Linked DNA regions of Homo sapiens. The protein of the gene in region 1 interacts with the protein of each later gene in a biochemical or structural test. Each region holds a gene or a part of one and is shown in the gene's direction. Other genes may lie near its edges.

Region 1 (6,969 bases):
GTGGCTCCCCACTGCAGAAGATTCAAGTCTGAATGTTTCAGCCTGACATTCAGCTCCTGCTAACGTCTCCAGCCTCTACTTCCCTTCCCACCGAGCCCTCCGGTGTTATCACAAACACCACATGCCACATGCCACGCTATCCAGGCCCCATTCCTGATAGTTTGTTAAGAGAGGTGGGCAGGCAAGGCTGGCTCCCTGGGGGTTACTTCACATCTTCTCCCTGTTGTCATTAATGGTCCTGAGCTTGGCTCTGCCCAGCAGCTGTGTATGTGTGTGTGTGTGTGTGTGTGTGTGTGTGTGTGTGTGTGTGTGTGTGTGTATGTCTGAGCCCACGCAGATACACACACAAAAAAGAGGGAGAGAGAATGAGAAAACACTTCTATCCCTTCCAGGCAAAAGCCAATCAGGCTCTGCGAGGCAGATAGGGGTTCTCTCAGGCGCCCACTTCCCATCATGCCCCTGCCTCTCCAGGGCTCCCCTGATGGGAGTCATTTGGAAAAACAAATCTAAAACCTTCACAGTTTAACCCCTGCCTTCCCTCAGGACCTGGCTCTGTGCAGAGCTGCACTGGGAACAGAACATCTGGGTCCCCTGAGCAAATACTAGCCCCTCCAAGGATGTGCTCCTGTCCTGACAACCACACTCCCAGCTGGCATCTGCTGTGCAGAAGAGGAGGGGGTTCGGTGGTCGGGGGAGTGGTGCTATGCCTTACAGACAGAGGATCTGTGACTAGCACCCTTTAGGGGACCTCCTACCCAGCCCATTGCATCACTCTCCCATCTCCATGGGAAGAGGAGACTCCCCTGCCCCTGGGAGCCCCCAGTCTGAGGGGCATCATAGGACCTCTCGGGCAAGCACAGAGTCTGGATTCCTGAGCTGCTTCAGTTTGGAGGGGAATGGTGGGACTGGGGAAGGGGATACCTCCTAATCCTTCCCTTTTTGAAGCTTCCACCCTCAGCTCTTTTTCCTCTTTCCACCAATCCCCCAGCACCTCCATGAGGGTCATTTAGTCTATATAGTCCCCCCACCCCTCCTCTCTAAAACGTACTGATGGGCAGTATCTAGCCTGGGGGACAGGCCCTGGGGTGTTGAGGAAGAGCAGTCTTCCCCCAAAACCAGCCTTCCTCCCTGTAGGGATTGGGCCCTAAGAGGGGGGACACAGGACAGGGCCCTGGAGGCAGGAGCTCAGGACCCAGTCTAGCTTTACCCTTAGTTCTCAGAGCTGCAGTTTCCTGTCGGCAACATTGCCTCCATTACTTAATGGTGCCTGGTTCTCAGCTACCTATCCCACCCCTGCCTCTTCCCATTCAGTGGCCCTAGAGATGACTTCTAACACTCTCACGGCCTCATTTGGGTTTTCAGGCAAGCTTCACTGGGATCACAGTTTCACTAGTAGGGACGGAAGATATCTACTTGTCCACGTTTTGAAGCTCTTCTCATCTCTGAGGGAGCTGAGGGAAAAACACCTTTATGTGGGGAACTAACTGCTTTTCCTGCTGGGCAGTTCTCCTGAGCGCTAACCCCAACCCCCATGTTCCAGTGCAGAGTAAGTGGAGGTGCTGTGGCTGCAAGCTCAGTTTTTTGGCCTCCCAGCTGGCTGGGAGGGAGGTAGGGGTCTGGGAGCCAGTTCTGGGGACTCACCCTCTACTGTATCCAGGCCAAATCCCAAGGAGAGGAAGATCACAGGCAGGCATGCTCCCCAGGGCCACAGACTAGGCACTGCCATTGTCCCAGCCCTGGCTTGTGTCCAGTCCCGGCTCTCCTCCCGGTGACTCTGGGGAGAACGGTGTGATAAGCCCTAAGGGACACAGAGACCAGGGTTCAGATAGGAGAGGGAGGGCAGGGGCAGAGAGACAAGGAATCCCACACAGAGACAGCAGGAGACAGAAAAAAAGAAATGAGAGTCACAGAGACACAAAGACAGTGACAGGCAGTTGGAGACAGAGAGACTCAGCATGAGATTGAGAGATGGGGACAGAGATGCAGACAGTGACAGGGAGAGTCTCGGGCCTCCAGAGGGAGAAAATGACACAGGGTTCTGAGCAAAAGGCAGGCCGAGAGGCCAGCCAACCCTGAGGGCGGAGCAGCAGGCTGGGGACCGCTCCCAAGGAGGGCAGCGGGGGTCCCGGGGCGCGTGGGACTCCGCAGGGAGAGTCTCCCTGGATCCCTCCGGGCGCGCGGCCCCCCAGCGCCAGCTGACAGTGCTGGCTGCGGTCCTTCCCAGGGCCGGCACGCAGGGGCCGCGCCCAGCTCCCGCCCTCCCCGCCCCCCGCCTAAACAGATTGGTTCGCAGGGACCTTTCCGTTCTCTCCACCCCTCCCGCCAAGTCAAAATATTTAGCCTGACAACTGAGGGGAGGACAGGTCTGTTGGGGAAATAAGGCCAAAATACGGGGGGAGGGTGGGCCAAGAACTGAGCTTCCTCAAATCCCGCTGCGGCTGCAGCGGCTCCCGCCAACCCTTTGTCCCCACCACAGGCTTCTTCCAAGTGGGGCTGCACCGCCGGAGGGGCAGCCAGCGCGCCCGGGCTTCTGGGGAGCGCTGTGTCTAGATTCTGCTTCCCGGTGCCTTGACATCTGCGGGGTAACTTCTGGCAGCCTCGACCCGGGAGAACGTGGACAGCCCTTGGCCTCTGGGAGCCCCTCTCAGCCTCCTAGGAGGCCTCCTTGTCCTCTTTGGAGACCCCTTAGCGCCAGGCTCCGTCACCGCCTAGTCCCTTGGTTCTGACCAAGATCCCGAGGAAGAAGGCGATCACTGTGTAGGGCTCTGCCTCCGTCTGGTCACCTTCTTGAGCTCAGGCTGCTCGGTCGGTCTGTGTGTCCCTGTCTCGGGGACTTGGGGGGCCATCCGTGCTGGGGCCTTGGCGGAGAGAACCGTGAGCCTCTAGGAGGTCGTCCTTCCCCCGCTCCCTGGGGCCTTGCCTGTCTCCCCGCCAAGAGACACCCCTCTTCCCTTCGCTCTCCCCAGCTTGAGACGGATGGGTTAGTGCAGCCACGGAGGCTTGCGCGGTGGGAGGGGTTGGGACCAGCCTTCTGCTGCCCTGGGTGCTGGGGATCCCGGGGCTTTCCAGGTGCTCGGCCTCCAAGGTGCGCGGTCCTCAGCTCCACCCGCGGGCGGCTCCTGCGTCCGAGGAGCTAAGAGAAGATCTATTAATTTCTTCACGAATAAATCGATGCTCTTGTCAGGGAGGCGATCGATGTCAGCCCTGCCCTGCCTTGCCCTATCCTGCCCCGGGGCCGGCGCTGGCTGGCCGGGGTCAGGGACTGAAGCTGAGACCTGAGGCGTTGCTCACTGGGGGCTGCAGATCGCACCCCCAGGCACCCAGCGCGGGCGGGGAGCTCGCGCCTTTGCGCGCGGGCTTCTCGCGCCACCCTGTGGCTTCTCTTGGAGGCGCGGTCTTGGCTCTCCGGACTCCCTTCGGCCGGATTAGGCGACCCCTTCCCTTTCTCTGCCCCGTCTGTGTCTTCCTCCCCAGGTTCTGCGATTGATCCTTTGGTAGTCCTTTTCGTTTTCTTCCTAGAGTTCGGAGAATGTTCTACCTAACTTACTCCAAGTGACATGCTCACTCCCCTAGGCACGCGCGCCGCGAGGATGGAGCGCTGAGCCTGGGGCTGGCTAGGATGACCTGGACAGCAACCTTTCCTCAACGCAGTCATCTTCCCTCCTCCCCAAATGTAAAAATGCAGCTGCTTTAAGCTGAGAGAAATAACGTATCAGCTTCCCACCTCCGGCCTCAGCAGACACCTCCGAGGCGTTCTGCTGCGGCCCCTCAGCGTCTGCCGGAGCTGAGGCGGATCCTCGGGGAGAAGGCTGACGCTGGGGGCCCCTAACAGGGGAGGGGGCAGAGGGGGGGGCGTCAGAGAGTAGGAAGCGGGTGGAGAAGAGGGGCAAGGCGGGGCCGGGCGGGGGCCGCTGGCTCCGCCCTTTCCTGGCGGCTGGGTCTTTAACACCGCCCAGCGCACATGTCGGGGGAGGCCTGGCAGCTGCAGCTGGGAGCGCACAGACGGCTGCCCCGCCTGAGCGAGGCGGGCGCCGCCGCGATGCTGCGAGGCGGACGGCGCGGGCAGCTTGGCTGGCACAGCTGGGCTGCGGGGCCGGGCAGCCTGCTGGCTTGGCTGATACTGGCATCTGCGGGCGCCGCACCCTGCCCCGATGCCTGCTGCCCCCACGGCTCCTCGGGACTGCGATGCACCCGGGATGGGGCCCTGGATAGCCTCCACCACCTGCCCGGCGCAGAGAACCTGACTGAGCTGTGAGTGTCCGGCGGGCGGTGGGGGGGCGCGGGGACAGGCAGGCATTGCAGTGCCCCGAGGGCGCGGACTCGCTGCTTGTTTGCTGGTCAGGCAGGACGAGCACGGCGGAAGGCTGGCACCACGCAGCCTTCGGCGCTGCCCGGGCGTTCCTCCGCAGCCGCCGCTGCCCTAGCAAGCTTTATGGTCAGTGCCTGGATGTCCCCTAGTGTTCAGGGCAGCTGGGCCGCCGGCTTCAGGGAGATCGAAGGGGGAAATCTCCGTGGACCAGGTCTGAGAGAGCCTAGCCGTCTAGAAGGCGCTTTCTGGAGCTCAGCCAGAAGCCCCTGCTCTGTCCTACAGAGAAGGATGGTTACCAGCAGAGAAGTCCCCAGTTTGTCACCCTTACTGCCTTTTTCCTTTTCTAGGGGCAAGCCAGCCCCCGCCCACTTTCTTGTTATGAGGAGGCAACCCTAGCTTTTCTTCTGGAATTGGGGATTGAGCTGGCTGGCATTGGTGGGAGGCGGTGAGGAGCTGAGTGGTTGAGCTCTCCTCTTTCCATTTTTACCATTCCTTCCCCCAGAACCCGTTGATTTGGATCTGGGAAATGGGACCCCCTCCTGGATTTTCTCTCCCCACTCCCATCTCCCTCTCCAACCTTGTCTCTCTACCTGGGGCGGGGAGTCAGGGCCCTTGCTGAGAGACCCTCCTCCCTTTGGTACACGAAGCTGGGAGGAATCTTCAGCATTCTGCAGGACTCTGACATTCTGCAGGAATTGGTTACAAAATACTCAAGTACTTTTTAGCAGCTGGTGAAACCTATGGGAGTATGCGGTAATGACTGGCCTGGAGGTACTCAGGCATCATATGGTGATGGCTGGAAAATACTTGAATATTACATATGGCTATCATGGCCAGCAAGACATCTAGAAGAGGGGAGAACTGCTAGAAAATCCTCCTCCTGTGGCCTGGGGTTTCGAGGGTGGACAAGGAACCTTGGCCTTGTGCTGTGATGGGCTGGAAGGTATCCGAGGTGAGGATCATCACTGTCTGGAAGTTACTTGAGCAGCTTGCAGTAATTGGCACTGAGTTCCTTGGGTATCTCATGGTAATTAACGGGAAGGCACTCAATCTCTCTCTCTAATAGCTCTAGGGAGACCAGGAGTAGAGGAGATGGCCTTGTCTTGGTCTAGGCCTAGGTCTCTGCATGATGGGAGGGGGCATGAGAGACAGGTTGCCAGTCCTAGTCCAGTTCTCTCATCACCCTGGGCCTTCAGATTGGGGTCCAGACTCCTGAGTGCTCCCCATCAGGGCTCGTGTTTCCCAACTCTTTCCAAGCCCCAAGTGGGTCCAGCAGGGTAGGGATGGGAGTGGTAGGGGGAGTGGACAGGCCAGAACTGGGGACTAGCAAGCATGTAGGGTGGTGAGCTGAGATGTCCCCCTGGGTGGGGCTGCAGCCTGACATCCCCCTCCCCACTGCCTGCACAGCCCCCTCCCTCCTCACTCACCCGCAGAGCTAACGAGGAGATAATGGACTCGAATAGACAGATTGATTATGAATCCAAACGAATGAGGCAGCTTTGAGGCAGCTTTGAGCACGCTGGCCTGACAGCTCCCACACACCCTGCCAGCCCACTGCATTCTCACCCCCTCCCTGGGTCCCTACAGCTTGAAACCCTCTGGGCAGGGGCTGGGGGGTGGGTAGAATAGGGACTTGGCCTCCCTCGGAGTCAGTGGAGGTTACTTTATAGGCCTCTACTAAGTCCACAGGGAAACTTAGGACCTGATCCTGGCTGTCCTGGTGGGGCCAAGGCTGGGAAGGGAGGAAAGGAGGAAGGGAGGGGTCACTTAGGCTGGTCCTGGTTCCTATAAGTTAGGGAAAGTTAGAGGGTAGAGGGGGAGAGTTCTGAGAACCGTCAGTGAGTCAGGGGCCCCTGGCATGTGTATTGTTGGGGTGGGGGGGGCACACTAACATGTCACTACAGGGCAGCCGAGTTCTCAGGAACTCCCTGGTATGTCGGATCCAGCAGCTAGGCAGGCCCCAGGGCGTCAGCTGTCCCCTAGCCCCGAATGCCTACTCATTCTTCTTTCTTTCTTGTCTATCTCGCTTTCTGTAGCTCTCTGTCCTTATCTGTCTGTCTCCCTCCCCTTATCTGTCTTCCTTCTTGCCTGTCACTATCTCTCTGACCTCTTCCTGTCAGTTTCTCTTTCAGTGTCTCTGTTTCACTCTCTCTTTGTTTTTCTGCCCGTCTGCCCCCACCCTCCTCGTTGAGCCTTTCCATCTTTCTGTCTCTCTCTCTCTCTCTCTTGCTGTGTAAGTCAGCCAGTCTGTGCCTCTTCTCCCCTCCTCGACACTCTGACTGCCTCCTCTCATTGCTCCTCTCCTCTTTCCTGGGTCCCTCCTTGGGGTCCCTAACTGATAGCCTGTAAGACTCTTGCTTGATCTGCTGAAAAGATGGTAGGGGAGGTTTCGGTGGAGTAGGGGTTGCTGCTTGGGTGTGAAGAGGGGCCAGAGGCTATGGGGGTGCAGAGATGTTTGTGTGTGTGTGTGTGTGTGTATGTCTGTGTGTGTGTGTAGTACAGGTGAGACCAGGCAGTGGCCCTTGGGCGGGCACGTTTGGGAACACACATTTGCATGAGCACAGGCTTCGTCTGTGCTGGGTGGGGCAGTGGCAGGGATAAGCCTTGGCCTTTTGTGGTAGCAAGTGTTTCAGTACAACCTCCCACTGATGAGTGTGTGC
Region 2 (7,032 bases), on another chromosome or scaffold:
AAGTGCACTTACTTGAGATTTGCAGAGTGGAAATGAGGTGGAGCATATTGTTTTGTTTCTTTGGCTTTTTCTGCTGATAAGCACAGTCATGTAAACATCTAAATTTTCTGCGAAAGTATTCCAGTATCTGGTAACTTGCTTTGTACATATTGATAGGAAGTCACCGAAGTAGTGGTGGTAGTGGCTTCCAGACGTCAAGATTGATTATATTCTTGAAGTCATCAGTTCTGGTGATGACTCCTGATCATCTACCTTTCTGACTGGGAGAGGTAGTAGCTTCCTGGATGGGTCAGTTCTGCCATGTTTCTGATCTTCTAGAACTGCAGTCCCCAACTGTTTTGGCACCAGGGACCGGTTTCATGGAAGATAGTTTTTCCATGGACCGGGGATGCGGTCCAGTGGTTTCAGGATGATTCAAGCACATTACATGTATGGTGCACTCTACTTCTATTATGATTACATTGTGATATGTAATGAAGTAATTATACAGCTCACCGTAATGTAGAATTAGTGGGAGCCCTGAGCTTGTTTTCCTGCAACTAGATGGTCCCAAGTGTGGGTGACGGTAATGGGAGACAGGGAGACAGTGACAAATCATCAGGCATTAGATTCTTATAAGGGGTACACAACCTAGATCGCTTGCATGGACAGTTCACAATAGGGTTCATGCTCTTATGAGAATCTAATGCCGCTGCTGATCTGACAGGCAGCAGAGCTCCGGAGGTAATGTGATCGGTGAGGAGTGGCTGTAAATACAGATGAAGCTTTGCTCACTGGCCTGCCACTCACCTCCTGCTGTGTGGCTGGTTCCTAAGGTTGGGGACCCCTGCTCTAGAAGTCCAGCCTAGCACCTACTCTTCCAGCTCTTCCAAAAATTTTGTAAGCATCTAATCCCCTGTATTAGCTTCTTTCTTCTTAAAGCATCTAGAATGATTTCTGTTTCCTATAAGAAAGGCTGACTGAAGCAAGGAAAAGAAGGAAGGAAATAAAGAGGAAAGAGTTCAGAGTCTCCGCTATCGGTATGGAGAGTGCAGTTTGCACATACAGAATAATAGATGCCCCTGGTGGCAGCAGCCACAACAGTGCATAAGTAGCAGGGTAAGAAGGGCATATTCTGATACTTCTGGACCCACTAAGGCTGAGCAGAAACTGACCCTTACTCAGTCTGGGAACAAACTTCCCAAACCTTTATGTACTACACACAAAGGAGGAGAAGCATAGGTTAAGCAGCAGCTGTATTAGTAATTTCTCCCAATCTTTCATGTATTGTTTTTGCCATTAGTGCTTTTTTGCAACTCTTTAATTCCAGGATCATTGTAAAGTATTTTTCATGGAGCAGGGACTAAAGAAGTGAATAAATATAGTGTATTTTTAAAATAATTTATTTTTAAATTATGTATTTACTTTTGAGACGGAGTCTTGCTCTGTCACACAGGCTGGAGTGCAATGGCGTGATCTCAGCTCACTGCACCCTCTGCCTACCAGGTTCCAGCGATTTTCCTGCATCACCCTCCAGGGTAGCTGGGATTATAGGCACGCACCACCACGCCCAGCTAATTTTTGTATTTTTGGTAGAGATGGGGTTTTACCATGTTGGCCAGGCTGGTCTCGAACTCCTGACCTCAGATGATCCGCCTGCCTCGGCCTTCCAAAGTGCTGGGATTATAGGCGTGAGGCACCGCGCCCGTCCTATTTTAAAATTATTTTAAACCATCAGAAAAGTTGAAAGTACAACACAAAGAGCTCCAGTATTCTTCTCATACAGATTCTGCAACTGTTAACCTTTTCACTGCAATTGTTCCATCACCTTTTTTTGCCATTTTCATTAATCTTTTTCTGAACCACTTGAGAGCAAGCTGCAGACACAATGCCCCATCATCTTTAAATACTCTAGTGTGTATTTTTCTAAAACAAGAATACTTTCCTGCATAACAACCATACCCCCTTCCAAGCTAGGAAATGGACACTGATACAACAATGCCATTCAATCCACAGATACCATCCAAATTTTGATAAATGTTACTAATAATTTCTCTTTTTCCTTTTCTGGTCTAAGAACCTATCTGGGAACATATATTGCTTTTACGTGGCATGTCTTTGCAGTCTCTTCTAATCTGTAACATTTCCTCAGTTTTTCTTTTTTTTTTTTTTTTTTTAATTTTTTTTTTTATTATACTCTAAGTTTTAGTGTACATGTGCACATTGCGCAGGTTAGTTACATATGTATACATGTGCCATGCTGGTGTGCTGCACCCACTAACGTGTCATCTAGCATTAGGTATATCTCCCAATGCTATCCCTCCCCCCTCCCCCGACCCCACCACAGTCCCCAGAGTGTGATATTCCCCTTCCTGTGTCCAAGTGATCTCATTGTTCAATTCCCACCTATGAGTGAGAATATGCGGTGTTTGGTTTTTTGTTCTTGCGATAGTTTACTGAGAATGATGGTTTCCAATTTCATCCATGTCCCTACAAAGGACATGAACTCATCATTTTTTATGGCTGCATAGTATTCCATGGTGTATATGTGCCACATTTTCTTAATCCAGTCTATCATTGTTGGACATTTGGGTTGGTTCCAAGTCTTTGCTATTGTGAATAGTGCCGCAATAAACATACGTGTGCAATGACTTTCTTCACAGAATTGGAAAAAACTACTTTAAAGTTCATATGGAACCAAAAAAGAGCCCGCATCGCCAAGTCAATCCTAAGCCAAAAGAACAAAGCTGGAGGCATCACACTACCTGACTTCAAACTATACTACAAGGCTACAGTAACCAAAACAGCATGGTACTGGTACCAAAACAGAGATATAGATCAATGGAACAGAACAGAGCCCTCAGAAATAATGCCACATATCTACAACTATCTGATCTTTGACAAACCTGAGAAAAACAAGCAATGGGGAAAGGATTCCCTATTTAATAAATGGTGCTGGGAAAACTGGCTAGCCATATGTAGAAAGCTGAAACTGGATCCCTTCCTTACACCTTATACAAAAATCAATTCAAGATGGATTAAAGATTTAAACGTTAGACCTAAAACCATAAAAACCCTAGAAGAAAACCTAGGCATTACCATTCAGGACATAGGCGTGGGCAAGGACTTCATGTCCAAAACACCAAAAGCAATGGCAACAAAAGCCAAAATTGACAAATGGGATCTAATTAAACTAAAGAGCTTCTGCACAGCAAAAGAAACTACCATCAGAGTGAACAGGCAACCTACAACATGGGAGAAAATTTTCGCAACCTACTCATCTGACAAAGGGCTAATATCCAGAATCTACAATGAACTCAAACAAATTTACAAGAAAAAAACAAACAACCCCATCAAAAAGTGGGCGAAGGACATGAACAGACACTTCTCAAAAGAAGACATTTATGCAGCCAAAAAACACATGAAGAAATGCTCATCATCACTGGCCATCAGAGAAATGCAAATCAAAACCACTATGAGATATCATCTCACACCAGTTAGAATGGCAATCATTAAAAAGTCAGGAAACAACAGGTGCTGGAGAGGATGTGGAGAAATAGGAACACTTTTACACTGTTGGTGGGACTGTAAACTAGTTCAACCATTGTGGAAGTCAGTGTGGCGATTCCTCAGGGATCTAGAACTAGAAATACCATTTGACCCAGCCATCCCATTACTGGGTATATACCCAAAGGACTATAAATCATGCTGCTATAAAGACACATGCACAGTTTTTCTTATCCTAGACAGTTTTAAGAAGGACAGGCCTTGGCCGGGCGCGGTGGCTCACGCCTGTAATCCCAGCACTTTGGGAGGCCGAGACGGGTGGATCACGAGGTCGGGAGATTGAGACTATCCTGGCTAACATGGTGAAACCCCATCTCCACTAAAAATACAAAAAAAAAAAATTAGCCGGGTGTGGTGGTGGGTGCCTGTAGTCCCAGCTACTCGGGAGGCTGAGGCCGGAGAATGGCGTGAACCTGGGAGGCAGAGCTTGCAATGAGTCAAGATCATGCCACTGCACTCCAGCCTCGGCGACGGAGCGAGACTCCGTCTCACAAAAAAAAAAAAAAAAAAAAAAAAAGCAAGGACAGGCCTTACATCCTACGATGTTTCTCATTTTGGGTCTGTTTGGGTCTGTTTAGTGTTTCTTGATGACCATGTTCAGGTCACGCTCTCTTGGCAGGAATCATAGAAATGATGCTGTGTTCTTCGCATGCATCACACCAGGGGACACATGATGCTGACTTGTCCCAACACTGTCAGTGACCTTAATCACTTGGTCACCTTGGTGTCTGCCAGGTTTCTTCTCTGTAATGTCACCTTTTTTCTCTTTATAATTGATAGTATTTTCAGGGGACATATCGTAAGATTATGCCAATATCCTATTTCTCGTCAAGTCTTCATCCTCAGTTTTAGCATCCATTGATGAATTCTATCTGAACCAAACACCACTATTTTGTTTTATTTCCATCTCTGTTAGTTGGCATTCTATGTAAGAAGAGCTTTCCTTTTCCTGTCATTTATTTATATCAGCATAGACTTGTAAAATCCCACTTTATTCAGCAGGTTGTAATCAGTTACTGTCATTAAATATTTTATTGCTCATACTGTCCCAGTTTGTCCAGTGGGAGCCCTTTCAAGGAGGTTCCTAGGTCTTCGTAACAAGTCCCCATCATTCTTTGAACACTTTCTGGCAGAAGTTGTTCCAGGCTTCTCTTGTATTTTGCTTGGCTCAGCTATCTACAATCAGCCATTTTCCCTAGAAGCACTGGTCCTATTTAGTATAAAATGGTTTTTACATGCTACAATTTGGGTACTTGGTGTGCTCATTGTTACTGGGATATACTCTTGGACCATCTCTGAACAGTTAAGCGTGTGTGTGTGTGTGTGTGTGTGTGTGTATGTGTACTCTACACACATATATAAGTATACACAAAGATCTATAGCTATTTCTATATCAATCTGTAAATACATAAATTTAAAAATCATGAATTCATACTGATTTTTTCCAATTCAAACCTAATACCTGAGTTCCTTTATAGCCATAAGTACCTTTTCTAACAGTGAAAAAATTTGACTTTTATTATCCTTAATATATTTGTTCATTGACTTATGTGTTCAGTGTAACTAACTTCCTGACCACGCAGACATCTCCTCTGCCACTTCAGCTCTTCACATCCTTGGATGCCAGTGGGAATATTGCTATTCTCTATGCAGCATCCCTGTGCAACGCCGTCCTCCCCTCCTCAGTACCCTTGCCAGTGGGCACCCTTCTGATGCATCTCTGTATGGTATCTCCCTCCTCCCCTCAGTGCCCCGTGCTGGCGAGCATGCCAACCATGCACCTCTGTGAAATTCACCCTCACTCCACAGACATTTTCTGTAGTGGCCTGTGATTGACTGCTCTGCGCCAGGAACAGAAAAGGAGAAGGAACTATAATTTCTTTTATAGGTAATTAGGAATTCATATATCACATAGGAGTAGAATCTTTGAGCTGGAAGAGACCTTGTAAATAAATCATTTAGGGTGAGCAGGGGTATAGAAAATGGGATTCTTTTGTGTTGGAATTCTGGCCCTGTCACTTACTTGGTGAATCTTGCATAATTAAACATCAGTCAGAGCAGGATATTTAAGTCTGCTGATTCTCCCATCCCCTTGCTGTCTCAGAAATATTCTATAGCATTTGGAGACATGCAGGAACCAGTTGAACACAATTGCTTCTCAATCTATCATGGTTATCTACTCCAGAGCTGAATCTTTAAGTCAGATAGCTGATTTGAATTGCTGAACCCATTGTTCTGCTGAATTCTGTGGCAATTGATGTTACTTCTTCTTTAGGACTTCTATTTCTTCTGGCCTCCTTGCCAATAGTATCAAAGTTTAAGAGGATAAATGAATGGGGAGGGGATAGGAGAAGTCTGGAGATAAATGCAGGGAGAAAGGCACAGCACAAACAAAAAGCATTTTGATAAGGCTTTTCTGAAAGTTGAGTAAATATGTCTGTAGCCCATTATTATAACTCATGGCTGGACTCAAATGTCTGGCTTCAACTGATGCGAGACATGTTGGGGCAATGAAGAGAGTAATATGAACAAACAATCATGGCCGTCAATAAAGATGCTTTAGTGAAAGTATTCTCCTTTGGGAAAAAGAGTCAACCTAAATAAATAGCAACTGCCTTTAACTGAATACCCACTCTGTGCCAGGCACCAGGTTAGATTTTTTCATACTTTAGCTGTAATCATCACAACATTATTGCAGAAGTAGGAAGTATTACCCCCATTTTAGAGATAAGGAATATGAGATTCTGATTTGTTCAAGAACCTTCTCCCAGTAGGGAGAAGTGTTATATTCATAACAAACACTTGGTCCTTCCACTTTCCTGCTACTAATACGCAAATAAAATAATTTAACAGAAGAGACTTTTTCTCAGGAATATGATGAATGTGAATGGAATGTGTGCAAAATTAACTTGTAATTGTTATGCTCTCATTTCCACATCTTCTGTCTTTTCTTGATAAAGCTTTTAGGTGGACCTCTGAAGTACTTGATTTCTGTATTTGCTTAACAAATATTTGATGAACACTATGTATCAGGCACGTGGGTCAGGGCATGAGGTATAATGATATAGAATATACTTTACCGATTTTATAGCCAAGAGGGAGAGAGAAACATTAAATAAATTATCACACATCAATATTTTATAAGTGTTATTAAGGAAAACAGTGTAAGATGAAAGTATTTATAACAGGCTGGGCGCAGTGGCTCACACCTGTAATCCCAGCACTTTCGGAGGCTGAGATGGGTGGATCACTTGAGGTCAGGAGTTCGAGACCAGCCTGGCCAACATGGTGAAACCCTGTCTCTACCAAAAATACAAAAATTAGCCAGGCATGGTAGCATATACCTGTAGTCTCAGGTACTTGAGAGGCTGAGGCAGGAAAATTGTTTGAATCGGGAGGTGGGGGTTGCAGTGAACCGAGACTGCGCCACTGCACTCCAGTCTGGGCAACAGAAGAACACTCTGTCTCAAAAAAAAAAAAAAAAGT
Region 3 (7,830 bases), on another chromosome or scaffold:
CATAGAAAAGGATCAATAAATATTAGTTTAGTGGTTATGAGTGTGTCTCTGGGGACAGACTGCTTGGATTCTAATCCTGACCTCATCATTTGCTAGCTACCTGAACTAGCTTTGCTTGTGTCTCCATCCAGGAAAAAATAAATTAAAAAAATATATATATACCCTATAGGGTCGTTTGTCATCAAATCTATTTAAGTAATTGCTATTATTCATTTTTTGTCTTTCCAAGGCTGTTGACAAATAACATTAGCTACAACTCCATTAAAACGTTGGTGGTAATGATATTTATAATTTGATGTCTGCACTTGCCTTGCTTGTTTAGAAATGGTACAACGTGGCCAGGCATGGTGGCTTACACCTGTAATCCCAGCACTTTGGGAGGCTGAGGCGGGCATATCACCTGAAGTCAGAAGTTCTAGACCAGCCTGGCCCAACATGGTGAAACCCGGTCTCTACTAAAAATACAAAAATTAACCGGGCATGGTAGTGGGCACCTGTAATCCCAGCTACTCGGGAGACTGAGGCAGGAGAATCACTTGAACTTGAGAGGCGGAGGTTGCGGTGAGCTGAGATCGTGCCACTGCACTCCAGGCTGGGTGACAGAATGAAACTCTGTCTCAAAAAAAAAAAAAAAAAAGTACAGTGTAGTACCCCACAATTGCTATCCCAGAAAAACAATTTAAAATTACCTCAAAATACATTGAATAGTTATGAGCACATGTAAAATATATAAGGCAAAATTCTATACTTGTTTCTTTAAAACATCCATATGATGTTTTGGGACCAGTGGTCCCAAACTCTGTCTACCATAAAGATACCACATGTGGGTAAGGCCAACTCATTGCACTGTTTGATGAAGAGAGATGCTGCATCTAGCTAAAGTCACTGATGCCTTGTGGATGCATGCCAGATGTCTGCCAGAGTGTTTAAATTTTCAAGGGATGCCAGAAATTGGGATTTTTTTTTACATGACATTTCTCAATTTTAAAATTTTGACTCAATTTATTTCATGGTACAAAACTCTCTGGATCAAACAATACATTTGTCAAATCTTTGCCATAAATATTTACACTAATACATATGTACTAGTTACACTGTGCTGTTATTCAAAGCAAATGTTTTTGAGGCATGAATAAAAGATGAGGAAGACAAAATATAAAAAGGTCTTCAGAAACTCACAAGTCTAGTGGGGAGATAGGCAACAATGTCACAGAAAAGAGTGAAAAGTGTCACAGTAGAGTGTGGAAGTTAGAACTTAAGCTGTGTGGTTAGGATCAGATCTGCATTAAACCAACAAACAAAATCAAAGAACCCCATTATTTCAAAGCTTGGCAAAGGGTGGACACCCAAGTAGATGGCTCTTTTGTTTAACAAAACACCTTAATGGATTTTGGGGGTAGGAGCTATGCATAGACAGGGCCACAGCCTTGCACAGTTCCAGGGGGCATCATTTGTGTTTGTCACCTCTTGAGCATCATTCATGTTGTATTCTTTGTGAATAGCACCCCCTGGAATTGCACAACATGGTAATTGTGTCAATAAAGGTGGCCTGGAGTCTGGCCTGAGATGAGGATTGAGAGTTAAATCCTTCTACATAATAAAGTAAAAGGAATTTTAAGTCTTTCCTAGTGGGTAGAGGCAGGCGGGTAGAGGGATGCCTGGAATGGACAGAAGAAAAGGGTTAGGAGAAAAGACATCTCTAAGATGAGGATGGGCCAGCAATTTGGCAACAACCTGGAGCCGAATGAGCCTGGTGAGAGATTGCTTGTAATTTTTGCAAGAGATGCATACAATCCTCTGTCATCTTCTACCTCCAGGAGACACTGGTAAATGAAGTCAAACAACTTTTTCTTTGGCACTCTTCTTTATGAATCAGGAGATAATTGGGAAAGACTTCACCGTCCAGAATCACACAGCAACACTTGCCTAAACATACAATGCCTTAATAACTTGCCTTTTTACTGTTTTTCTTTAAAAAGCTGAAAGTGCTTACACTTTCATTTCCTCATTTGTTCTGACATTCCAGTGTGGGTGGGGCAGATTTATGATAACATTATTTATAGATGGAGAAATCGAAATAGAGATTAAATCGCTTAATCAATGTTGCATAGCTGGGGCAGTGGAGCCCACAGTGGAATTTGGTTCTCCAGGCTCCAGCCACGAAGTGGAAAGAACATGAGTTTTGGAATTAGAGGGATCTTTGCACAATCCTGATTCTGCCCCTTAACAAGAATGTGGCCTTAAGTCAATTACTTCACCTAAGTCTCAGTTATCCTCATCTCTAAAATTAAGACCATAAAACCTCATAGCAATGTAGTGAAGATTAATTTAGAAAACGCGTGTAAAGCCTTGGCATAGAGTAATTCCCAAATAATATTAGTTCCACCCCCAACCCAGTATTATCTGGTTACATTTCAGTACAAATTTAAAGTAATCAAAATGAATCCTCCATTATAGTAATTTTTTTTCTAGCCTCATCTTCTTTCACTGAGAGCAAAACATGAATAAAAATCCTTCAATAGGTCATTTAATTCAACGGCAAGAACTTTTGCTCCGGTAAGAGTTATCCCTGTTGGAAAAAATTAGAAAAAAAGAGGAATATGTGGAAGACAAGATATTAGTTCTTAATATCTTATGCAGTGGTTCTTAAACTTGACAGTATATCAGAATCTCCTGGAGGGCCTGTTAAAACACAGATTGCTGGGTCCCACCCCAGAGCTTCTGATTCATAAGATCTGGGGCGGGACCCAGTAATGTGCATCTGTAACAAGTTCACAGATGATGTTGAGAGGCTTAGTCCAGGGACTTCTAGGGGTGGGGCCCAGCAATCTGTTTTAACAAGCCCTTTAGGTGGTTCTGATGCACTCTCAAATTTGAGAACCACTGGGATAGTGGTGAAAAGCATCTGAGAATATGGTCTGCAAATTCAAACCCAGGCGGCTCCATTTACCAGTTAGATGACCAGATTAAATGACTAACCTCTAGCACCTCTGCATCCCACACAGAGCCTGATAATATCTGTGATTCAGGATTCCTCTCACTATCCCTTTAGGCCTTGAGTAAAAAGAGATGTCGGTGAGTCCTGCCAACCCACGCTGTTTTTTACTTCTTCACACTCTGAGGCACAAAAGGCTGCTTGAATTTGAGTATTACGGAAGTATTTGCCAACACTTCTGCGATCACAAAAATAAAGTAAGAAAGCCCTGTAAATAAAGCCAAGAGCAGTGGCATTGTTTGCATCTTAAATTTGTAATAATGGGTTTTCAACTTTTTTCCTTTCCCCTGCCTTTCATAGTAGAAACATTTAAAAATCTTCCCCGCCACCCCCCCCCCCCCCAGTTTCAAGAGATGTTAGTACATTTGTTTTGCAGATAGTATGCATTGCTAAGAGGCTTTTTTTTCTTTCCCTGCATCCCAGATACAGAATCTGCCTCAGATATCTGGTGCCTTTCTGATTTTGTGGCTGAGGAATCCCACGCCCTCCTCCTTTCCATCCCTTTTCCCTGTCTGGTATGTAACTCTGTGGGTCCTCATATTATCACTGCATGGAGCTTCACAAGCACCTGTATTTTTCCAGTTGTAAAAACCCCTACTCTTTCTTTTTTTTTTTTTTTTTTTTTTTGAGACGGAGTCTCGCTCTGTCGCCCAGGCCGGACTGCGGACTGCAGTGGCGCAATCTCGGCTCACTGCAAGCTCCGCTTCCCGGGTTCACGCCATTCTCCTGCCTCAGCCTCCCGAGTAGCTGGGACTACAGGCGCCCGCCACCGCGCCCGGCTAATTTTTTGTATTTTTAGTAGAGACGGGGTTTCACCTTGTTAGCCAGGATGGTCTCGATCTCCTGACCTCATGATCCACCCGCCTCGGCCTCCCAAAGTGCTGGGATTACAGGCGTGAGCCACCGCGCCCGGCCAACCCCTACTCTTTCTTATTTCCTTAACTAATCTTTTCTATTGCCTATTGCTGATGAGGTATAAGAATCGTTAACTTTTATCCAATGCCAGACATTCTGAAATGTTTATCATGCATTATCATTTTGGATTCCTACAATGCAGAGATGATTTTATAACTTGCCAGGGTGAAAAAATAAAAGTAAATAAAAGGAGACAAGCAAAAAGATTCCAGATCCCCACCCCAACCCCCCCAACCCCCCAACCCCAGCTCTCGCCTCTGTTGAAGTCACCAGTGATGACAGAATATAGGAATATAGTTTGAGCCCTGTTTTTAAATAATTTCAAAATCTTGGTATAGGTAGATGAGATTTATACACACGTGAATTAAAATCAACCAACATTTGTGAGATTGGGTTTGGTATCTTTGACCGTTTTTCTCCCCTGCAAGACGTAGATAATAGCACCAACCCCAAGGAGTTTGGGGATGATTAAATAAGTTAATGCACCCGAAGGGACTTAATACAGTGCCTACCACGTAGTAAGCGTTCAATAAATGTTAACTATTATCATTATTTTTTAAAGGAGGCAGATTGGAGCGTAGAGTACACTGAAGGGAGTCGGGAGGCCGGGTGTAGGCACTGGATTCTTGCACCTAATTCTCCGAGCCTCGGTTTCCTTATTTGTAAAATTAGCTGGCTGGAGTAAAACAACTCAAACAGCAGTTAAAGCAAAGGGTGCAGCAGTAGCCGGGGAATCGAGGAGGCGCGGGGCGGAAAGGGTTAGTTAGGAGCCCAGAGGCTGATCTGTGGGCGCCCGGCGAGAGAGGCCCCGCCCCGCCCTGGAGGCCCTGGCAGCTCCGGGCTGAGAGCAGTTCCGGTGCCAAAACCCTTCCCTCCCCCGCTCCCCCGGAAGTGCTTTTCCAAGATTCGGGCCGGAGAGAGGCCTTGTAGGCACAGCGGCTGAGACTCGATCTGCTCCAAGTAGGGGCTCCAGCGCGGGTCGGAGTCTGGGGGTTCGCGCCCGCCGACCCGCGCCCTGCTCCCTCTCAGCACCTGGGCGGACGGTGAGTGGCTAGGGAAACGGACTGGGACGGCCGCGGGCCCGCGTCGGAGCTGGCGTTCTCGTGCCCCCGCTGCCCGCTTCGGGATCCGGGCTGAGGGCTCGGCTGCCGGCGTCCGGGGAAGGGGATTGTCGACCGCCGCGGACTTCTCCGGGCCAGCGGGACGGGAAGAGCTGGCTGTGGGTCCATGGGGTGGGCGGGGCGGAGCCAGGGAGGGGGTTCCCAGAGCTGTTGTTGCTGTTGGGACTCGAGAGTGGGGATGGGCTGGGCCTCTGTTCGTCCGTCCGACCCCCCTCATGTGTGCTGCCCCAAACCTCGCCGCTCCCTAGTTTGGTATTCTGTGTCCGGCCTGGGGTAGTAGCTGGACACCAGACTCAATCTTGGGCTCCAGTTCCCGACTTTTCGCCTCCTCTGGGTCTGTCCTGGGGTCAGTAATTAACCCGGGTCCCAGGGGTGTCGTCTTTTCCCTCCAGGGTGGGGCGCTGCCTGTACATGCCAGGGATCTTTTGCAGGGCTTTTCATCCAGATTTGCTTCAGGGTTGTCCGGGATCGATTTGGACTGGGCTCGGAACCGGTCCTGGATACGTAGGTCGCTGTGGCACCAGCATGCTCTGTATCATCTTTACTCACTTGAAAGCTTGCTGAAGCTGTTGTTGAAGTAAACTTAAAGAAAAAACTTGCTTAAGGAAAATCAGTAGTTTAGACACCCCCTCCCCCGCCTTTTTTTGCAGACATACTAAAAAAAAAAAGATGCTTTTCTCTAATCTACACTCTTAATTCTTTTGGCTATCTGATGTCACAGTTGTATGATGAGTTCATTCAGAGGCTGTACGAATTGATTTTAAAGAGTTGGACAGTTATATCCTTTCTCCCAAAGTTTGTTTACCTTCATATTTGGAACTGTCATTTTTCTTAAGGAAAAATTGTTCTTGGATTTTCTTGAGAGATTCCTTACACTGTTAAAATTGTTGCTGCAATGCAGAGTTTCACACAGGTGGGCAGAGATGTTTTGTTTAAACTTATTCCATGAAGTGTTTACTTCGGATAAACTGAGGATTTCCTAGGGGAGAAAGTGATGTAGGTAGGTTTAGTGAACAGATTTTAGGTAGTAAACTTTACTGCTGAAAGGTTTGTAGGAAATATGGGTTTTCCACAATAAATGGTGATTTAAAAACTTTTTATAAGGGAATGCAGTTACTGCAGATTATTGCTATTAGCAGATGGCCACTGTTTTTGCAGCGTAAAGTATTCACAAATCACCTTCTTGAAACCAGTGACGCTATCTGCAACTCTCATCTTGTGTGTAGATTAGGGTTTATTCTGTAGTTTTTTGGGTACTTATGTCATTCTCTTTCCTCCCACCCCTGAAAGGGGAGGTGGTATCATGAATCAGGAAAAATAGACTGAAGTGACAAGTTCAGTGAGCTTTTCCTATGCAAAGGAAAATTTATTTCAAGGTTGTTGATTTTGAACAGGCAAAGGGTAGATGATTTTTAAAGTCCTTGGAAAAAATTGTGGAGAGATTAGCTGCACAACTTTTCTTTTTCCTCTTCCTTTCTTTTCTTTTTTCTTTCTTTTCGAGACAGCCTCATTCTGCTGCCCAGGCTGCAGCACAGTGGCCCCATCATAGCTCACTGCAGCCTCCAACTCCTGGACTCAAGCAGTCCTTCTGTCTCAGACTCCTGAGTGGCTAGGACTATAGGCACCAACCACCACACCTGGCTAATTTTTTTTTTTTTTTTTTTTGTAGAGCCGAGGTTTCACTATGTTGCCCAGGCTGGTCTTGAACTCCTGGGCTCAAGTGATCCTCCCATCTCGGCCTTCCAAAGTGCTGGGATTACAGTTGTGAGCCACCATCCCCAGCATATTTGCACAACTTTTAAATTTAGATAGAAACTGTAGCTTCTTCCACATGTGAAGTACTTAATTATTTAGAGCATAAGATTGGAATATTGGAATTGAGAGAATCTGGAAAAATAGTTAAGTTAGATGTAGTTACAGATTTGCAGGTATGACAATGTATTTTTAAGGGAAATACTTCAAGAGTTTTAAGAGCAGAGAAAGGTGATTGGGGAAAATCAGATACTGATTGTATTTTTATATTATACAAGTCAATTCAACAAACACTGAGCATTTGCTATGCATGTTATGCTATGTTATGCATAGCATGCTATTTGCTATGCTATGTTAGGTAACTATGTAAGGAGCAAATAAAGGTATAGCCATAACAGTTGAGTTTCATGTTTTGGTAATAATTTCTGAAATCATGAAGAGTTGAGTTGTATTCTTTAGGCATACTAACAATTTTTTTTGTAATTGGGACTTAACATTGGCGATGGGTGTTGAGTGCTTCATGAAAAGCGCTATACTAGGCATTTTAGGATATAAAGATTAAACTTTTGGTTTTTAGGAATTTGAAATCTAGAAGGGGATATAAGATTTGTGTAAACATTTACAACATAAACATTTGTAAATACTTATGGGTGGTTTGAGGTAAAGTTTGGAGTAAATTATACAAAAGAAGAAAGGGTTCATTTTTAGCTTAAGTAATGGAAATTTGTGGAGATAGCTCAGAAGCTACTGTTTATTGAGCATTTACTGAACAGACTTAATGCTAGTTGCTGTTTACAGCATTTTCTTAGCTTCACAGCAATATGTAAGTACCTTAATAATGAGGACAGTGAGGCTCAAATATGTTAAGTTACTTGCCTGGGCTATGTGGCTAGCATGTAACAGCCCCAATTTGAATCCAAATCTGTCTGGTGCCAAAGCCTGTGTGTTTCTACTGCATCATGTTGCTCCCCAATAAACTGGTAACCTGAGTTTAATGTTACAGAGAATAAGACTTTTCTAAGACAAAGATTTATGGATTGGGAGTAG
Region 4 (7,032 bases), on another chromosome or scaffold:
ATTGCACTCCAGCCTGGGTAACAAGAGTGAAAACTGAAGCTGTCTCAAAAAAAAAAAAAAAGAAAGAAAGAAAAAGGAAAATGTATATATCATTATAGGTCAGTGAACTTTCACAAACAGAACACACCCAGGTCAGGAAATGTGAGATAAACAGCACCTCTAGAGTTCCTTCATGTCCCCTTCCATTGACTTGTACATATATATATATATTTTGAAGTAAACATAAACTCTTGGGAGGCCGAGGTGGGTGGATCAGGGGGTCAAGTGATCGAGACCATCCTGGCCAACATAGTGAAACCCCCTCTCTACTAAAAATACAAAAAAATAGCCGGGCGTGGTGGCGGGCGCCTGTAGTCCCAGCTACTCAGGAGGCTGAGGCAGGAGAATGGCGTGAACCCAGGAGGCGGAGCTTGCAGTGAGCCGAGATCGTGCCACTGCACTCCAGCCTGGGCAACAGAGCAAGACTCTGTCTCAAAAAAAAAAAAAAAACATAAACTCAGGATTTTATTGTCTTCATAATAAAACAAAAGATGACACTTAGAACTGGATCACTTGGCCCTTTCTCTTCTTATCTCCTCCCAGTTCAAAATGCTTGCATCTTTTAATAGCCAGCATTCTCTTAGATCTGCAGTTGGGCTCAACGCACTCAAGCCTTAGCACAGTCTTCTTTGTGGTTTCAGCCTTTTTCCGGAAAATCGACTTAGTCTGCCCACCATAGCCACTCTGCTTCCTGTCATAACGCCGCTTTCCCTGGGCATACAGAGAATCCTTTCCCTTCTTGTACTGTGTCACTTTGTGGGGTTGATGCTTGCCACACTTCTTAGAGAAAGTCCAGTGAATTTTAGGAAAGTTGACCATTTGCGTGAGTGCTATCAGCACAGAAAGGACTTGTATATTTTTAATTCTTCTGTGTAAAGCTCACCTCATTCCTCATCTCTTAAATTTCTTCCTGATTTGGGCTCTTAACATTATTTTCAGTCTCTTTGCAAAAAAAAACCAAAAAACAAAAAGAACTGTCTTCACTGAAACTTGTCTCTTCCTCCTCTTATAATCTCATCTCTTGATCAATCTGCTTCCGTTAAACCAAAGTGTCGTGTGGCTACAAAGTCATAACTCGAGGGAATATGGGGGTTGGAATAGAAAATGCAGCTGTGGGGTAATAGCTAAAAACATTCCTTGGAGATTTTAAAGCTGAAGGAAACTTTTTGTGAGCTCACCCGTGGATTTGTGCAGAGGGAGTGAATAAGCAAGTGAAGACACAGTGATGGGAGCAGCTTGCTCATGCTCAGGAGTCTGACTAGGCCTTTAAAAATTATTTGTGGCCGGGCACGGTGGCTCATGCCTGTAATCCCAGCACTTTGGGAGGCCAAGGTGGGCAGATCACCTGAGGCCAGGAGTTCGAGACCAGCCTGGCCAACATGGTGAAACCCCGTCTCTATGAAAAATACAAAAATTAGCTGAGCATGGTGACAGGCGCCTGTAATCCTAGCTACTCAGGAGGCCAAGGCAGGCAAATCACCTGAGGTCAGAGGTTCAAGACCAGCCTGACCAATATGGTGAAACCCCATCTCTGCTAAAAATACAAAAATTAGCCAGGCGTGGTGGCGGGTGCCTGTAATCCCAGCTACTCGAGAGGCTGAGGCAGAGAATCACTTGAACCTGGGAGGCGGAGGTTGCAGTGAGCCGAGATTGTGCCACTGCACTCCAGCCTGGGCAACAGAGTGAGACTCTGTCTCAATAAATAATAATAATAATAATAATAATAATAATAATAATAATAATAGTAGTAGTAGTAGTAGTAGTAGTAGTAGTAATAGTAGGCCGGGCGCAGTGGCTCACGCCTATAATCCCAGCACTTTTGGAGGCCGAGGCAGGCGGATCACGAGGTCAGATCAAGACCGTCCTGGCTAACACAGTGAAACCCGTCTCTACTAAAAATATAAAAAATTAGCTGGGCGTGGTTGCAGACGCCTGTAGTCCCAGCTACTCGGGAGGCTGAGGCAGGAGAATGGCCTGAACCTAGGAGGCGGACCTTGCAGTGAGCCGAGATTGTGCCACTGCACTCCAGCCTGGGCGACAGAGCGAGACTCCATCTCAAAAAAAAAAAAAAAATAGTAACAGTAATAAAATAAAAATTATTTGTGAAGGATGTGAGCTTTCACCTAAAGCCACAGCAAATGAAACAATCTTTGTAGGTGCAGCCTCATCCTCAGATGCTTCTGGTCTCTGCCACCTCGAGCTCTTCAACATTCATTTGTGTTCTTTGCTGTTTTGTTTTCTTTTTCTTTCTTTTTTTTTTTTAACCCGACACTTCAGTAGCTGTTTTGTATACTTAAACATTTGAATAAAACTTAATTTTTAAGCATCTAATTACATCACTCCAGTTTCAGGGCTTGTGTGTGCAAGCTCCCAGTGCAGGTGGAGCAGTTGGGTTGAAAGGCCTGGTCTCTGGCTCAGGGTTGCAGCTGCATTGTTCATCCTGTGTTTTGCCTCCGGCAGAACCAAGCTTTTTCTGAAATTCTAGAGTGAAGAGGTTTAGAGGTATGTGCAGCAATACCTGGGCTATCTGATAACGTGATATTCTGGATACTAGAATTTTCCAGATAACCAAAATCGTAACCATTCATGTACTCAAATGTTACATTTTTGGCCAGCATGATGGCTCACGCCTATAATCCCAGCACTTTGAGAGGCCAAGGTAGGTGGATTGCTTGAGGCCAGGAATATGAGACCAGCCTAGCCAACATGGTGAAATCCCGTGTCTGCTAAAAGTACAAAAATCAGCTGGGTATAGTGGCGCATGCCTGTAATCCCAGCTACTTGGGAGGCCGAGGCACTTGAATCACTTGAACCCGGGAAGTGGAGGTTGCAGTGAGCCGAGATCATGCCACTCCACTGCAGCCTGGGTGACAGAGCAACAGAGCAAGACTCTCTCAAAAAAAAAAATTACATTTTTAAAAGCATTAATTCCATATTTTCCTTCTTTCTGGGGGAGAAAAACATACTAAACACCAAGTAATAATTTTTGTTCTGTAGACAGCCATAGTTCTAAGTTGATGTCAAATCTAGGAGTTGCCCTGGAGTTGTGTTTGTTGGGGGAGGGGACACTTTTTAGAGGGATTTGCCTCTGTCTTGGTAAAGGTGACAAGAAGAGAGTGTAGCTCTATGAACTCCTGGCAGGTAAATAGAGTTATCTTTTTCTGCAAAGTTATTGGTCACAAATCAAAAGTGTCCCTTTCTAATGATTACTTTGTTCTGTTTTGATGCACAAATAGGTTACAAGCAGCTCTTTGTCAGTCTGACTCTCTGTCTTCCAAGAACAAGTGTATACAGTAAAAGTAGACACACCTCACCATTTCAGGAGTTAAGACATTTTCAAAAACTCTTCATAGCTGGTATGGGTGCACGCACCTGTAGTCCCAGCTACTCCAGCCTGAGCAACGTAGACTCTGTCTCTGAAATAAAATAATAAATATTGTTTATAAGCCTGTGGGGTTTTTATTATTACTATAGGATGATGCTTTATAAGGTCATTATTAGACCACATTTTCCTTCTAGACCTTATTTTTGGTAGATAACAGAATCCTGGCCTTAAATAACTTTTAAAGTAGCTCCTTTTCTCAAAGGCTATTCAGAGTTTTCTGTGCTGCCAGTACAGGGGCAGGTGGTGGTGGCCCGGCAGGGTTCAAGCGCACTTTCCCTCCTCAAACTTGTCCTTGGTGTGTGCTTTATAATTGTCTATCAATACAGCACCATTGCTGGCTGCAGCACAATGCAGTGTTTTTAAAATGAAGACTTAAAAATTATGAGTGTACCTTGCATATATTGTTTTATCTCATTCCAGTCTTTGATGTGATTTTTTTACGAGAAACAAAATGATGACTAGAAGAAAGTTTTCATCAATACTCTATCAATATTTATGTGACTCTTGGAAACTTTGAATACACTGGGATTTACCACTAGCTAATTTTTTTTGAGAGTTTGCTACACATATTTATTAGCTCTTTCAGGATTTATCACCTTATCCTAAGCATTGAAACCCAGTGTCTGGCACCTGCAGTCAGAGTGTGGTAAGCATAGCAGATAAGCACCAGCATTGCAAAGCTCTGCAGGGCATACCCTCTGTTAAGAAAGCGTAGTCATTAATGCAGCCTGGCTAGTTGTCGATCATCTGTCATTCTTATCTACCCTTTCTATTGCATCTCACTTTGAATGGCAGTACACAGACAGCACTCACTTTAGAGCAATCCAGCTTCTGATTGGCTACGAGTACAGCATTGTTCAACATCTTGAATAAATCATTTTGTAAAGAATGTTACCAGTTTCCTCTCAGAACTTTGTTATGCAGTGTAGATTACCACTGTACTAGCCAACATTTTCCTGGGCCCACCATTTTGGGGTTGTATTCACATTTTTGTTTTATCTTTTACCAACTTTATGCCTTCTGCCCTTTGCCTTTTGTTGTAAGTCTAGAATTCATAGGGTGGCTTTCACGCTGTACCTGATTCTGTTCTGCTCCGTATATACTAGTCCCCCCTTACCTGCGGCCAGTTGCAATCCAACATATAAATAACATATTTTGGCCAATCGCAGTGGCTCACACCTGTAATCTCAACACTTAGGTAAGCTGAGGCAGGAGGATACTTGAGCGCAGGAGTTCAAGACCAGCCTGGGCAACATGGCAAGTGCCTATAGTCCCAGGTACTCAGGAGGCTGAAATGGGAGGATAGCTTGAACCCAGGAAGTTGAGATGCCATGAGCCGTGATGGTGTCACTGTACTCCAGACTGGGCAGCAGAGCAAGACCCTGACTCAAAAAAAAAAAAAAAAGATATTTTGAGAGATAACACATTCACATAAATTTTTATTACAGTATATTGTTATAACTTTTCTTTTACACTTTTTAAATATAAAGACAGGGTCTCACTATGTTGCCCAGGCTGGTCCTAAACTCCTGGGCTAAAGCAGTCTTCCCACCTTAGCCTTCCAAACTGCCAGGATTACAGGTTTGAGCCAGCACACCTGGCCTGTTAAAACTTTTCTATTTTACTACTAGTCATCATTAATCTCTTACTGTGCCTAATTTACAAATTAAACTTATAGGTAGGACTGGCATGGTGGCTCACACCTGTAATCTCAGCACTTTGGGAGGCTGAGGCAGGAGAATCCCTTGAGTCCAGGAGTTCAAGACTAGCCTGGGCAAAATAAATAAATCGGCTGGGCACGGTGGCTCGTGCCTGTAATCCCAGCACTTTGGGAGGCCGAGTCGGGTGGATCACAAGGTCAGGAGATCGAGACCATCCTGGCTAACATGGTGAAACCCCGTCTCTACTAAAAAATACAAAAAATTAGCCGGGCGTGGTGGCAGGCGCCTGTAGTCCCAGCCACTCGGGAGGCTGAGGCAAGAGAATGGCGTGAACCCGGGAGGCAGAGCTTGCAGTGAGCCGAGATCGCGCCACTGCACTCCAGCCTGGGCGACAGAGCGAGACTCTGTCTCAAAAAAAAATAAATAAATAAATCTAAAAAAAAATAAAACGTATAGGTATGTGTATAGTGTAGGAAAAAGCATAGCATATCTAGAGTCCTGTACTATCCACGGTTTCAGGCACCCACTGGAGGTCTTGAAACGTATCCATCATGATAAGGAGGACTACTGTATTACTCTACACATTACAGCGTCATGGCCTAGCCTATGCATGGCCTGGTACATGCAATTCAAGAGGCAGCATTGGAGAGAACGGTCATTGGAAATATGAAAGTCTGGGCATGATGTTAGCTCTGTGGGGTCACTACCTCGTAACCTGGGTTGACCATTGATCTTGTTTTTTTACATCTGTAGAATGCAGTGGTTCAGTTCCAGGATTTCCAAGGCATCTGCCTGAATTCTGCTGGTTGATATGCTTTCAGCACTATCTAACTTTAATACAATGTGGCATTTGGGTTATTGAACTGAGTAGGATTTGCCATGCTTTTTCCTGAAAATAGTTTTCCCATACGAGGGCATATGGTTGTCCTCACAAGCAGCAGTGTTCTGGAGCTGTTTGGTGGGTGACCCGTACTTGCGGTAACCCAGAGAAGCCATGAGGGGATCCAGGACTGTATCACTGTAGATTCTGGAGGTCGGTTGGAAGATCTCTAGAGGAGTCTAATAAAAGGTTCTGTTGCTGCTTAGTTCTGCTGTGACACCTCTCTCTCCCAGAAAGTAGACTTTGTCTTCGTCAGGCTCCCTTATTCTCCTATGTGTTTGCCATTTTCCAGAACCTCTTCTCCAGGTTTCTCTCTTAGAAAAACCAAACCAAACAAAAAAACTGGCCGGGCACAGTGGCTCACACCTATAATCCCAGCAATTTGAGAGGCCAAGGTGGGCAGATCACCTGAGGCCAGGAGTTCAAGACCAGCCTGGCCAACATGGTGAAACCCCATCTCTACTAAAAATACAAAAATTAGCTGGGCAACGTGGCATGCGCCTGTAATCCCAGCTACTCGGGAGGCTGTGGCAGGAGAATCGCCTGAACCCAGGAGGTGGAGGTTGCAGTGAGCCAAGATCGCGCCACTGCACTTCAGCCTGGGCGACAGAGCAAGACTCCGTCTTAAAAAAAAAAAACAACTAATACTTGCCATTCTTCTTTCTCCTTCCTTACTGAGGGTTTCATTCCAGATGTTTGGGAGCCTGAATTTTCATTTTCAGAGATAATTTCTGTTTCATTTTAACAGAGTTTAACATAATGCTGGTTGTTTGAAGTTAAAAGGAGTCTTATATCCGTATAACTGATAATACTTCGAGTGAAACCGTTCACAGACCTAAAAGATAGCATAATTGTCTTGTAACTATCTTTTTAAAGGGAAAAGGAAATGATTGGGTTTTTTTGTTGTCTTATTTCTTTTCAGGTTTTGAACGAAGAATGTGATCAGAACTGGTACAAGGCAGAGCTTAATGGAAAAGACGGCTTCATTCCCAAGAACTACATAGAAATGAAACCACATCCGTAAGTTAAGCTCCATTAGTCTTGGAAGGGTTGGACCCACCTCCTTG

What was found.
Region 2: of the proteins of NTRK1 (region 1) and NEDD4, one has a biochemical effect on the other in vitro, tested with the Homo sapiens proteins (3 studies listed by BioGRID, with this or other methods).
Region 3: the proteins of NTRK1 (region 1) and FRS2 form a complex in vitro, tested with the Homo sapiens proteins (one study listed by BioGRID).
Region 4: the proteins of NTRK1 (region 1) and GRB2 form a complex in vitro, tested with the Homo sapiens proteins (one study listed by BioGRID).

The regions. Positions count from the first base shown.
Region 1 is NC_000001.11:156,856,896-156,863,864, forward strand, and holds the start of NTRK1 (high affinity nerve growth factor receptor isoform 2 precursor), read left to right. Parts: upstream 1-3,969; 5' UTR 3,970-4,039; coding exon 4,040-4,251; intron 4,252-6,969. Other genes in the region: INSRR (insulin receptor-related protein precursor), read right to left, coding at 1,642-1,726. UniProt on the Homo sapiens protein: Receptor tyrosine kinase involved in the development and the maturation of the central and peripheral nervous systems through regulation of proliferation, differentiation and survival of sympathetic and nervous neurons.
Region 2 is NC_000015.10:55,983,612-55,990,643, reverse strand, and holds part of NEDD4 (E3 ubiquitin-protein ligase NEDD4), read left to right. Parts: intron 1-7,032. UniProt on the Homo sapiens protein: E3 ubiquitin-protein ligase which accepts ubiquitin from an E2 ubiquitin-conjugating enzyme in the form of a thioester and then directly transfers the ubiquitin to targeted substrates. Specifically ubiquitinates 'Lys-63' in target proteins.
Region 3 is NC_000012.12:69,465,578-69,473,407, forward strand, and holds the start of FRS2 (fibroblast growth factor receptor substrate 2), read left to right. Parts: upstream 1-4,810; 5' UTR 4,811-4,953; intron 4,954-5,111; exon of another isoform or gene 5,112-5,129; intron 5,130-5,215; exon of another isoform or gene 5,216-7,830. UniProt on the Homo sapiens protein: Adapter protein that links activated FGR and NGF receptors to downstream signaling pathways.
Region 4 is NC_000017.11:75,332,653-75,339,684, reverse strand, and holds part of GRB2 (growth factor receptor-bound protein 2), read left to right. Parts: intron 1-472; exon of another isoform or gene 473-885; intron 886-6,887; coding exon 6,888-6,985; intron 6,986-7,032. UniProt on the Homo sapiens protein: Non-enzymatic adapter protein that plays a pivotal role in precisely regulated signaling cascades from cell surface receptors to cellular responses, including signaling transduction and gene expression.